3 separate regions of the Homo sapiens genome follow, and regions 2 and 3 are each reported to be linked to region 1. The links are microRNA targets in miRTarBase. Many come from high-throughput screens and were not tested one by one. Region 1 holds a microRNA gene; each other region holds the end of a gene's coding sequence.

Region 1 (4,143 bases):
GACCATCTTCTTTCAAAGCAGGGGAACTGCTTGCGGGCACTCACCTCCAGAGTTGACTTGCATCCAATACAACTGATGCAGCTGTCATGATTAACCCTAGGTCGATTTCATCCTTAGGTCAGGGGATCCTTTCTATAATGGTCCTTGATGCATTTCCTAAGAGTTACAGGGAGGAGATGGATGCTAACGGCTCTATCTCTAGAATTCACAATCTTTCCAGCAGGCCAGGGCACATCTTCTTTCTTGGACCAGCATCCACACTCCAAAACCTTCTAGACAGCACTCACTCAAAACTTCCAATATTCACAATATTATACAATAAATACAGCGATGTGATTCTGTGAGACCTGGCAAGGCCCAAAGTGACAGTGTCCAACAAGATGGCCTGTGCTGCTCATGAACAAAGTACCACTGGACAAAGACCTATTTGGGGCAAAGATGCAGTGGGTGAGCCTGGAGGCAGCTCAGCCCTGGCATACACACTTACATGGGGTGATGGGGAGTGCTGGGTGGGGCTGGCCAGAGGGGCAGAAGGACCCCCCTGGAGTCTCCATCTGGACTTGAGTGTCTGGGTCACTAAAGCAGACCCCAAATTGAGCAGAGCACCTCAGTCCACTCTTTTGAAAATGGGTGTGGCCCTTTCCCTTGTCCTACGTCACTGCAGGGAGGAAGGGCCATTTCTGAGCATTTTGTGCTCCTTTTTTGTGGGGTAGGCTTGAATCATGTGCTTTCCTCTCAACCAGAGTCTCGGAGGAGGCCCCCACCTGAGCATTGTCCCCCATCTCTGGGTGTCTTCTCACCCCCTGCGGCTGGGATGCACCCAGCTAGGCTCTGTGAACTAAGGTCGGGATGAACCCTTAAGTCTCCTGCTCCCGAGGAGGCCTCAGATGAAAACTGTCAGACCAGGGCCCAAAGAGACAGACGGCAGATAGGGAGGTATGGGAGGGGCAGGGGAACCACTGTGGGCTTTTCCTCAGAAAAACCAAGACCGGGAGCAAGTTCTAAAGCAGGAAGATGAACACATAAAGCTCCCTGTGTGTCTCACGTGTTTGGGCAATTGGCCCAGCCACCTCTATGTGGAGGGAGGCCTGCTGGGGCTGCCTCTGGAGCAACTCCAGCTCGAGGCTGGAGGGCAGGGCTGGCCACAGGCTTGTCTGTGGAGGCGCTCTGCTGAAAGCACGAGCGCTCTGTGTGGCCGAGGTCATTGTACCCCCGGCTTCCTGCTGGGTGGTTCTGTGATGGGGAACCAGCTGGGGCCTTATGGCATTAGAATCTGGTGGCCATGAGGGACAATGTCCAAGAAGATCAAATTAGACACAAACTGTCTGGGAACTAAACTATCCTACAAATAGACCACAAACAGGCAGCAAAAGAACCAACCCATCACGAAACGTACAAAGACAAAAGGTTAAGTCTTCCAGGAGGCCCTGGAATGTGGACGAAAGTTTGGAAAAGCAAAATGTTGCCAACTCCTCACGCAGGGCCCTGGAGGGACGGGCCGCAGTGGTGGCTTCCCAAGCCAGCAGAGTGGGTGCCTCAGTGACAGCCTAATTCTGGGGCTCCCTCCCATCAGCCACTGAGGGGGTCTTCACGGTAGTGAATGGCACAACGAAGTTTCTCCAGCATGATTTCCAGAGAGGAGTACTGGGGAAGCTTGATCATGAACATGCAGGTCTCCACGCGGATGTAGCGAGAGTCTGGGGAACCTACAAGAAACCGAGCCAGCATCAGAGGGTTGGGCCCACATCTGTGAGGCTCCCAGGGAAGCTGGGCTGGCCTCTGCTTCCAGGTTTGCCTCCTTGGGTAGCCCCAAGCCAATCCTGGGGCCCAGCAGGAGGGGGATGAGGGCCTGGGAACCTGCGAGATGTTCTTGGAGGGAAAAGGGGAGAGAGCTGCTGGACAGCGCATGTGCCAAACTGCTGATGGGTTTGTCTGCCCAGCAAATTGTTTCTTTTTTTTTTTTTTTAACCATTTTTCTGCATTTAAAAGTTAGAAGATTTGAAGCATTCTGGATTTTCAGCTTCTTTTAAGATATGAGAAAGTATCTAACAGCAGGCCTGTATGGCTGGTTCCTGCCGGGCCCTAATCCTCAATGATGTCTGAGTTTTGGCACGTGGGGCTCCTGTTCATTGTTCTCCCTTCACATGGGGCCTGGCAGCCCCAGTTCCAAACAGAGAAAGGCTAGTGTGTCCCTACTTGGGACATGGCCAGGGGAGGGCGGTACCTGCTGTGCCATCTGGGGGGGCGATCTTCATGGGGTACGGGGGCACATGGGCAGTGTCGGGACCCCCATCTTTGCAGGGGCAGGTGAACGGGATGCGCTCCTGGTTGCAGGCAAACTTGATGAACTTGCACAGCTCCTCCTGGGTGAACATCTCCAGGGCCCCCCAGAAGAACTCGATGTGCTGGTCCGTCTCCATCAGCCCCACTTGGTACATGGTGTGGGCCTGGGGAGGAGAGGTCCAGGTGTCAGGAGCCCTGGAGCCCCACCTACCCAGTGCCTCCCCAGCCCTGGGGTCTGCAGGCCAGGCCCAATCCTGGGGCAGGGTGCAACGTGTGGGCTGTGAGCACAGGGAGATGACAATGATGACAATGATACAGGTCTGTGGCAAGGACAGAGCTGAGACAGGCCACTGCCGATGCCTGCTGCTGGAGTTGAGGGTGACAGGGAGGCACGCCTGGGGCTCACCACCTCCCCGCCCAGCCTGGCCCTGGGATGTCTACCTTGAGGAACTCGAGGTTGATGTAGGGGAGGCCGCAGGTGCGCAGCTCCATCTCCAGTGGGCTGAGCATGGTCAGCAGCTGCAGGGGGATGATGGAGCCCAGGCCGGCCCGCACGGCCGTCACGCACTCCACATTCTGCAGCTCCCGCAGCCGCAGGCTCCGGATGGCTGCCGCGTAGATGTCCTTGTTCTCCCACCTGCCCGGGTGAGGAGCACAGGTGAGGGAGAACACCGCCGAAGAGGCTGGGTCTGGGGGCCACACCCACTCAGCTGGAGGTCCCGGATCCTCTCTTGGGAGAGGCCTGGGGCCCAGCCGCCCTGGTCATCCCAGTCCTTTCCTGCCTCTGGTGCCGCCGCCTCAGAGCTGCTGTTTTCTTAGTAAACCCCTTCTGCTGAGGACCCTCTTTCTTGGCACCCACCATCCTGCCTCATCTCCCTCTCCTGGTGAAATCCACCTGTCACCTGACCTAGGTCCTCGTGTCATTGCCCAGGAACAGATGCTGCTGTCATACCCTGGCTGGCTGGCCGGGCCAGCCCCTGCCAGCCCCTGACACGCGCACACACTCACGCCACAAGGATGTGCCGGCCCCGGCTGCACAGCTCCACCTCCTCGCCCGTCATGGTCAGGTAGGTGAACCTGCAGCAGGGCTTGTTGGGGCTGTCAGGGCTCTCCGTGGCCAGGTGCTGGGAGGCGATCTCAGCGCACAGGGCCTCCAGCTCGGTCTCATCATTGATCTGGAGGGTGGAGGCAGAGCGAGGCTCATTATGAGGCCATGGGAGGTGGAACCCTGATCCCCAGGTGGCTGGGTAAACCCCAAGCGCAGCTGGTGGGGTCTACCCTCGGCCGTGTAGATGAGCATGTGACACAGCTTTCGCCAATCAGAACCTGCCATCAGTTCAGGGCCGGGCGTGTGACCCAGGCCAGGCTAAAGAGACCCACATTCCAGGCCTCTTCCCACGTCTGTTTGGAGGCAGCGATCCTCTCTCACTGGCATGGACCGACTATGATGGGAAACCCTTTACCACTGGAGGCCACCTCTGCCCGTGCGCTGGGAGAGACTGCTTGAGGCTAATTATGCTTGCTTTTTTTTTTTTTTGAGACGGAGTTTTGCTCTTGTTGCCCAGGCTGGAGTGCAATGGCGCAATCTTGGCTCGCTGCAACCCCTCGCCTCCTGGGTGCAAGCAATTATCCTGCCTCAGCCTCCCGAGTAGCTGGGATTACAGGCGCCCACCACCATGCCTGGTCAATTTTTGTATTTTTAGTAGAGACTGGGTTTCACTATGTTGGCCAGGCTGGTCTCTAACTCCTGACCTCAGGTGATCTACCTGCCTCAGCCTTCCAAAGCGCTGGGATTACAGGTGTGAGCCACTGCACCCAGACCGCTTTTTCTTTTTTTTTTTTTTGAGACAGATTCTCGCT
Region 2 (4,143 bases), not on the chromosome of region 1:
AGGTACATCAACAAGGCGCTGGAGTGCTTCGACTCCTCGGTGTTCGGGGCCATCTACTACGTCGTGTTTACCACGCTGGTCCTGCTGGCCTCAGCCATCCTCTTCCGGGAGTGGAGCAACGTGGGCCTGGTGGACTTCTTGGGGATGGCCTGTGGATTCACGACCGTCTCCGTGGGGATTGTCCTTATACAGGTGTTCAAAGAGTTCAATTTCAACCTTGGGGAGATGAACAAATCTAATATGAAAACAGACTAGATTGCAATAGGAGCTTGGATGGTTCGAGGAATAGGCATTGGAGGTGGTTTCTGGCCGTGATTGGATGTGAAGTAGAAGAGGTCCTCGATCATGGTGTTAGAATTGACTGGATAGTAACAGGTGGTCTGGTGGATAGCGGGGAGCATGGCTCAGCACCAGAGCAGAGGCCCAGCCAGCCCTCTGCAGCCCAAACGTCCCCAACGGTTGCCTGGCACCATCTCTCTCTGATGAGACGAATCTCATTTTCATTTCCATTAACCTGGAAGCTTTCATGAATATTCTCTTCTTTTAAAACATTTTAACATTATTTAAACAGAAAAAGATGGGCTCTTTCTGGTTAGTTGTTACATGATAGCAGAGATATTTTTACTTAGATTACTTTGGGAATGAGAGATTGTTGTCTTGAACTCTGGCACTGTACAGTGAATGTGTCTGTAGTTGTGTTAGTTTGCATTAAGCATGTATAACATTCAAGTATGTCATCCAAATAAGAGGCATATACATTGAATTGTTTTTAATCCTCTGACAAGTTGACTCTTCGACCCCCACCCCCACCCAAGACATTTTAATAGTAAATAGAGAGAGAGAGAAGAGTTAATGAACATGAGGTAGTGTTCCACTGGCAGGATGACTTTTCAATAGCTCAAATCAATTTCAGTGCCTTTATCACTTGAATTATTAACTTAATTTGACTCTTAATGTGTATATGTTCTTAGATTAGAATAATGCAACTTCGAGTATGCTTTAATATTTCAATATTCAAGTTACAAATGTATAAGGCAGTTAGAAATAATACAGTCACATGTCACTTAATGATAGGGAAACATTCTGAGAAATGCATTGTAAGGTGACTTTATTGTGTGAACATCATGGAGTGCACTTATACAAACCTAGATGGGACACCTATGACCCACCCAGGCCAGATGGTACAGCCTGTTGCTCCTGGGCCACACACCTGTACAGCATGTGACCGCACTGAATACCGCAGGCAATTGTAACACAGTGGTGAGTATTTGTGTTTACAAACATAGGAAAGGTACAGTAAAACTATGGTATTACAATGTTATGGGACCACCGTCATGTAAGTGGTATGTCTTTGACAGAAACATGGTTACGTGGTTCATGACTGTATATTCACTGGAAGATAGTCAAGACTAAAGACACATTAGAGCAAATTGACCCCTTTAACATGTGATTATTGTCCAATTAAAGACAGTTGATTTAAGTAGCATGAGGTATTATTTTATTTGTATTCGATCTGTGTTACCTGGGATCCAGTATCAAATATATCCACATTCTTTATCAGCAAGCATTCATGGCCATTCAGAAGAAATAAATTAGGTAACTTGATAATAAGGCTAAGTGGGAGAGTACCTGTTCAATAGCTCATATATCGAGTACCCTGTCATACAGGAACAAGTTAAAGGACACAATTGAGGTTAGGCTAGCTTCTACAAATTGCAATATGCAGTTTTTGAAAGATTTTCTAACAAAAAGCCAATAAATGTAGCCATCTCCTTGTTGTTTGCAATGGCAGAGCATCCTAGAGTTCCTCAGCTAACCTCTCATTATGTGTCTTAAATGCAAAAGAGCCATTAATTATGCCAGTATTTGAATCAAAGAGGTCATTCTCTGTCTATAGTGTTCCCATCCATGTGTTCCAAATGGGAGCATAGCATGAAGTGATGCACATATTTCACCACGGTATCATGTACTTCATGGCCAGTGTTTTATCTCAGCAGGGAACTACGCCAAGTTGAAAGATGGGGTTGGGTAAAGTAGATTAGGTGAAGTAGAACATAAAATTGAATAGTACCCAATTAAAGTTCCTCAGTAAGAAAAAAAATGTGTTTTTGTAGGCAAAAAGAACATTTCTAAAGTCTCAAGGAATAGCTTCCTAAAGTGTTGAGTAAAGAGGCTAAATAAAATGAGACTAGTTTAATATAGAGAGAAAAATACCTTTATGGAGTAAACGTGTACATGATGATCATGGGTTGTCAGTGATTTGTGAACTGAGAGCAGCAACAACATTATTTTTTAAAAATCTTAAATCCTCTCAATGGATGGTTAACAAATGCTCAAAGTCCATTACTCTTTTTATTGGCTCTTGCAGGTTTTGTGTTTTATCATCAGTGCTTTTAGAAATGCAGGCCTTAACTTACTGAACTGAACTTTCTGAAAACGTAATGTAGCAGTATCAATATACTTTTGGGCATAAAAATAGTTTCCTAGGTAAGGGGTGTGAGATATTCAAAGAATACATGTGGCTAACAAGTGTAATGAGAAAGTTCATGTGTCACATGAAAATGATCATGTTTGTGTTGCTACAGCTTTTGTGGGAAATTTAGTTTAAAGGCAGCTCTTGGTGTACCTTAGTATATTTTAATCCACAATTATACCATTGATACTGAGAGGTGATACCCGATGATCTTCTCTATAATATTCTTAGAGTAAAACAAAATCTCAAAAGTATTAATAGCTCTTCTACCCTTGAAGGTGACTGGTCCTGGGACAGTTAGAATCTTTCAGGTTTACCTCTGTTCAGCAGATACTTCAGTAGGATACATAGCTTTTCTTCCAGTGAAACAAAGTTCATATCATCCATTGTTTTTCAAGCACGTGACACCAGCCTCAAAGTAAATGACATGACCAGTGGTTGAACAGTCTAATTTTCAAATTTAATATAGAGCATATAACTTCTGATTTGATAGTATTTATTTTAAAAAATTATGTTTTCATCATTCATTTGAAAATGAAAAAGCCCCAAAGTGAGAACTTTGGGGGAGGGCCTAGAACATGGATAGATCTCTTAGTGGTCTTTCCAAAAGTACATGTACTTGAAATATTTTCATTATCATACTATTCTTTGAAAAAAAAGATGCTTACTGTATACTTGTTTTCAAGCATCCTCTAAAATCAAAGGTTTTGATCACAATATGCAGATTTCTCTTGATAGATACTTAAATAGGCTATTTCTCTCCTCTTCTTGGGCAATGCCTTGTTTTCTCCTCTGAATATTTGCATTTGAAAGGATTGCTTCCTGTTCTGCTCATTGATCAAAGGTAGGGCCAATTAAGGATTCTAACCCTAACCCAGCACCACAAAGCCCCCCTGGAGCATCTTCCCGGCTGGCAGGACCATGCCATCTCTGTGGAGAAGGTGCTGGGGAGGGAAGTCCTTCCAGTGCCACATGGAGTGAGGCCCTGCCCATGCTGGGGACTTTGGGGAGGAATTTGGTATTCTGGTGGCCTTGCTCAGCTCTCATTGAGATCTTTTCCTATCAGAATGTTAGTGAATATACTTCGCAGCTCTTTGTTCAGCAATAAGGAATATTCTTTCAATTCCTGCTCTTCAAGCCAATTTACTACACCCAGTTGTCTTTCCAGAAGTTCATCCCAGCGGTAATATGTTGGTGTTTGTTCTTCTTTGGATTTCACATCTGTTTTCTGGTAGAAGTGAGCACTGTTCACTTGTGCAGTCGTCTTATTTTCCTTCTTCCTAGATGACTCAGCTCTTTGTAAATGTTGTGCTCAACTTCTAGGGGCCAGTTCTAGACTTTGGAGATGCAGTGTCTCCCAGGTGTGCACGGACACCTGGTCCGTGGAAACAGGTGTGATGGGCACAGGCTGCTGCCCTTCTGTCTGGTCGGGGGATTCCTCTTCTTCAAGCTGCTCAGCTAACCCAGAAGAGGGGAGAGAGTACTCCGGTGGTTCCCAGAGCCCCTCCCGTTGTGCCGCTTCGACCTGACACCTGCTCGATGCTGACTTAGGCTTCCTGCCACCAAGCAGGAAACTAGAAAGAGAACATTTCAGTGTAAGGTCTGTTCCCGACAGCATGGATTAGCTTCCGTGTTCTGAAGTTGTTCTTTTCATGGTGTCTGACACCGAG
Region 3 (4,143 bases), not on the chromosome of region 1:
TGAGCCCAGGAGTTTGAGACCAGCCTGGGCAACGTGGTGAAACCCCTTCTCTACTAAAAATACAAAAATTAGCTGCGCTTGGTGGTGCGCGCCTGTAATCCCAGCTACTTAGGAGGCTGAGGCATGAGAATCGCTTGAAGCCAGGAGGCGGAGGTTGCAGTCAGCCAAGATTGCACCACTGCACTCTGGCCTGGGTGACAGAGAAAGAAAGAGAGGAAAAGAGGGAAGGGAGGGAGAAAGAGAGAGAAAGAGAGAGGGAAAGGGAGGGGGAAGGAGGGAGGGAGGGAGGAAAAAGGAAGGAAGGAAGGAGGGAGAGAGGAAGGTGGAAAGAAGGATGGGAAGAAAGGACAGGAAGGAAGAAGAAAAGAAGTCCATCCATCCCATCCATCATGCTTCTTCACCTGTCCAGTTTCTATCTATTATGGAAACCCATGATCTAGGTTTCCCCACCGTGGGAACAATGTTACTTAACTGCTTCAGCCCAGGTAGTGGTTTTATCACTAAATGGGAAGATTTCTGTCCTAATCAGTATCCTGTCAACCTAGTAGCTTAAGGACAAGCATTAGATTTCAGCTTTTCTTTCCTACCTTTTTAGTGGGGCCGCTCCTTAACTGAAAACAATTTCTCAAAAGTACTCTCCCACTATTTCTGCAGACCCTCTGGAGACTTTGGGGTGTGGCTGGTTCCTGAGCATATCCAAATGGTGCCTTCCCAGGTGTGTGTTCCCATCTTTGTGCCTCACAACAGTTCACTTGTATTTTCCCTCTTTGTCTGGCAGGACCAGTTTGACATGGTGAGTGATGCTGACCTTCAAGTCCTAGATGGCAAAATCGTGGCCCTCACTGCTAAGGTGCAGAGCTTGCAGCAGAGCTGCCGCTACATGGAGGCTGGTAGGACTGGGTAGCCCCTCCAAAGTGCCCATAGGCTTAGGTTCATTCTAGAGGTCAGGAATTACTAAATGAATGGTTCAATGACTGCAGCATCTTGTTGCAGCTAAGACCCCTTTGCTGGGCTCCCTTAGGCATAAAAAGAAATGTAGGATAACTAACGGCTTTTGTGTACCAACAAATGGACAAGATACGCATTTGTTCTCCCTGCCACGATTATCAGTACACTGTCCCCACGTTTCCCTTTATTCCTGCTTCTTTAACTGGCTACGCCTAAGTAAGTGTTCAACCTCACACCCACGCCACTTGTAGATGGAGGAGGAAAGAAAATTAGAAGAATAAATAATCCTGTATGGCTTAGTTTCCATGTGAGATGATAGATCCAGAGCAAGGTGGAACACCTCAGGGAGCACCCACTGGGAAAGACAGAACTCCTTCCTCAGGGGTAGCAAGTGACCCCAGGCGGATGTGGTTTCAGAGCTCAAGGAATTATCTAGTGCCCTGACCACACCAGAGATGCAGAAAGAAATCCAGGAGTTAAAGAAGGAATGCGCTGGCTACAGAGAGAGATTGAAGAACATTAAAGCAGCTACCAATCATGTGACTCCAGAAGAGAAAGAGCAGGTGAGCTGGAAGGCTGTAGGACCGCTGTGCAGGTCCAGAGTGAACATCAGGGCTGAGCCCCAGAGGGCTGCTGTGGTTCTGAGGAGTTAGAGGAACTTGCTTTTTCCTTCTAGGTGTACAGAGAGAGGCAGAAGTACTGTAAGGAGTGGAGGAAGAGGAAGAGGATGGTAAGTGTGTGGGAGCTCCGAGACAGGCCCTGGAGGTGCCTTTGAAAATGGCAGGCACCAGATCAGCCGCTACACAATATCATAAACTGACAGGCAGTGCCCAGTGCTGCCCATCTGAAAACGGGTGGTTTTATTTCTTGTCAGGCTACAGAGCTGTCTGATGCAATACTTGAAGGATACCCCAAGAGCAAGAAGCAGTTCTTTGTAAGTGGAGCTCTCTTCCTTCTTTGCTTCCCTGTGGTCTTATCCTGGTGACATCTCATTCACTTGTCTCCCTGTCTCACAGGAGGAAGTTGGGATAGAGACGGATGAAGATTACAACGTCACACTCCCAGACCCCTGAGGGGCCCACGGTCAGGACTGGTGGGGACTGCAGGATGTCAGAAGAGTGAGATGTCTTGCACTGGCTACCTTGTTTTTGGTTGGCTTTTGTTGTTGTTCCTGCTACTTTCACCTTTAAGCAGAGCAGTCAGGAGACAAGCATAAACCAGAGCACTGGGTAGAGAGGATGAGGGCTGGTGGCTGGGGGTAGACCCAGCCCATTTCATTGTCTAAATTGCAGTAGCTTGAGGTTAACATTTAGACTTGGAACAATGCTAAAGGAAAGCATTTGGCAATATTTATTATAATTTAATTTTATATAAAAATATTTAATTTCCTCTGGATAGTCAAACCTGCCAGATATCAAACCTGAGGAAGGCAGAAGTGAATTTGGAGAACTAGGGTAGAGAGAGGTTGCTATAAAACGAGCATTTGGAGGGCCCACGGCTTCACTCAGGACCTGCTGGGCTTGTGTACCCCAGGAGCCCTTTTAAGTATCTTTTGTACGCTTTTCACCCCACCCCCAAGTCCTGGGAGAAATGCAGGCAACACTGAGACATGGGAGAGGCCAAGATATGCTTGACAGAAAGGGTGATTTTGAGGCTCAGTTAATATTTCAAAATTGTAACCGTAGCAAAACTGCATTGGTATTTAGAAAAATAAAAAATTTCCAATATGTAGTGCTGTGTTATACCTGCCTCTGCCATGCAGCATCATAGCCTGTGGGAACCGGGAGGGCTTCCCTTACCACCCAGAGCAGAGGAGGAAGGTGATGGAATATGGGGTGAGGGGAGGAACCTGGTGGCCCCTCCCTGAGATGGCCAGAAAGCCCTTGGCCTCACCTGGGACTGACCAGGCAGCCCTAGTCTAGGCACAAGGTGCCCTTTCACCCTTCATGGCTGTGGGAATATTTCCTCTTACTCTTTTTCTCCCATACAGCTACTGCCAAAATGCCCAAACTTGGGCCAAATGTTGCCCAAACTTGGGCCAAAAATGTTGCCCAAGAGACCAAAACAGAGGAAAACAGTTTCCAAATCTATGTAGATCATGAGCAGAAATCTGAGGCTTGAATAAAGGGCTGAGAGGGCAGGAGCTCTTTGGGGTGTCCAGAGCAGACGCCCATCCCAAGGACTTCCATGGAGTGGGGGGAAGGCTGGGTAGGTTTGAGTTTTATCGTCAATATAATAAATTAATCAGAAGCTTTCACAAAACAAACACCGCGGCTCCGCTGAAGATAAAATGGGGCTGGGAAAAACCAAACACCAAGTAGAAACCAGCTGACCAGTGTGAGGTGTTGTAGTCCAGTCTCCCGGGCCCAGCAGTTCAGTGGCCACGTAGAGATTCAAGGGCCTCTTGTTGGCTGTTCTCCAGGTTTCCAAGAACCGGTCAGTAAAGCTGGTTTTTCAATTGGTGCAGGACGCCAATCACAATCTCCCGCAGGGTCTGGCGAGGGCAGCAGAGGAAGAAATAGACAATGCCCAAGTCAACGCAGAGTAGTTTCCAAGATGCCTGCCTAGATCAGCCATGTACTTTAGAAAAGTGCTTTAAAAATAGCCCCCCGGGGGCCAGGTGTGGTGGCTCACGCCTATAATCCCAGCACTTCGGGAGGCCAAGGCGGGTGGATCACCTGAATTTCAAGACCAGCCTGGCCAACATAGTGAAACCCCGTCTCTACTAAAAATACAAAAATTAGGTGTGGTGGCACATGCCTGTAATCCCAGCTACACAGGAGGCTGAGGTATGAGAATCGCCTGAACCCAGGAGGTGGAAGTTGCAGTGAGCTGACATCACACCACTGCACTCCAGCCTTGGTGACAGAGTGAGACTCCGTCTCAAAAAAAAAAAAAAAAAGCCCCCAGGAAGTACTGATGTCTGCAGTTTAATTTGAGGTGCTCCTGAAGCAAGATGGAGAGATGGAAATATAGTAAAATGTTTCGGTAAAATTTAGGGAGCGGGTATACGAGTGTTCACTGTGAACTCCTCTCAACATCGCAATATGTTTAATGTGTTTCACAATAAAAATGTTGGGAAACGAGGCCAGGCACAGTGGCTCATGCCTGTAATCCCAGCACTTTGGGAGGCCGAGGCGGGTGGATCACAAGGTCAGGAGATCGAGACCATCCTGGCTAACACGGTGAAACCCC

What was found. Region 1 holds the annotated microRNA hsa-miR-6861-5p (ACUGGGUAGGUGGGGCUCCAGG, at 2,478-2,499, opposite strand). A microRNA usually pairs through its seed, bases 2 to 8, with sites in the 3' UTR of a target mRNA and lowers its output. Matches are read on the target gene's strand: a 7mer-m8 pairs with bases 2 to 8, a 7mer-A1 pairs with bases 2 to 7 and ends in A, and an 8mer does both.
Region 2: miRTarBase lists NIPA1 as a target of hsa-miR-6861-5p. Seed matches in the 3' UTR shown: 7mer-A1 at 3,935-3,941.
Region 3: the mRNA of MLX is a reported target of hsa-miR-6861-5p. Seed matches in the 3' UTR shown: 7mer-m8 at 3,153-3,159 and 7mer-m8 at 2,174-2,180.

The regions. Positions count from the first base shown.
Region 1 is chr12:112,160,818-112,164,960 of GRCh38, forward strand. It overlaps MIR6861 (microRNA 6861), which reads right to left and starts at 2,504; the gene lies at 2,441-2,504. HECTD4 (HECT domain E3 ubiquitin protein ligase 4) reads right to left here. Exons shown (of 76, transcript NM_001388303.1): 73 at 3,292-3,458; 74 at 2,725-2,920; 75 at 2,225-2,447; 76 at 1-1,706. The coding sequence ends at 1,570.
Region 2 is chr15:22,823,985-22,828,127 of GRCh38, forward strand. NIPA1 (NIPA magnesium transporter 1) reads left to right here. Exons shown (of 5, transcript NM_144599.5): 5 at 1-4,143. The coding sequence ends at 255. Among named protein-coding and RNA genes, the nearest start is that of NIPA2, 13 kb to the right of the region's middle. RefSeq lists an enhancer at 2,905-3,657.
Region 3 is chr17:42,570,846-42,574,988 of GRCh38, reverse strand. It overlaps MLX (MAX dimerization protein MLX), which reads right to left. Exons shown (of 8, transcript NM_198204.2): 8 at 1,786-3,442. The coding sequence ends at 3,386. PSMC3IP (PSMC3 interacting protein) reads left to right here. Exons shown (of 8, transcript NM_016556.4): 4 at 779-890; 5 at 1,366-1,511; 6 at 1,625-1,678; 7 at 1,823-1,882; 8 at 1,965-2,679. The coding sequence ends at 2,021. Among named protein-coding and RNA genes, the nearest start is that of PSMC3IP, 4.8 kb to the left of the region's middle.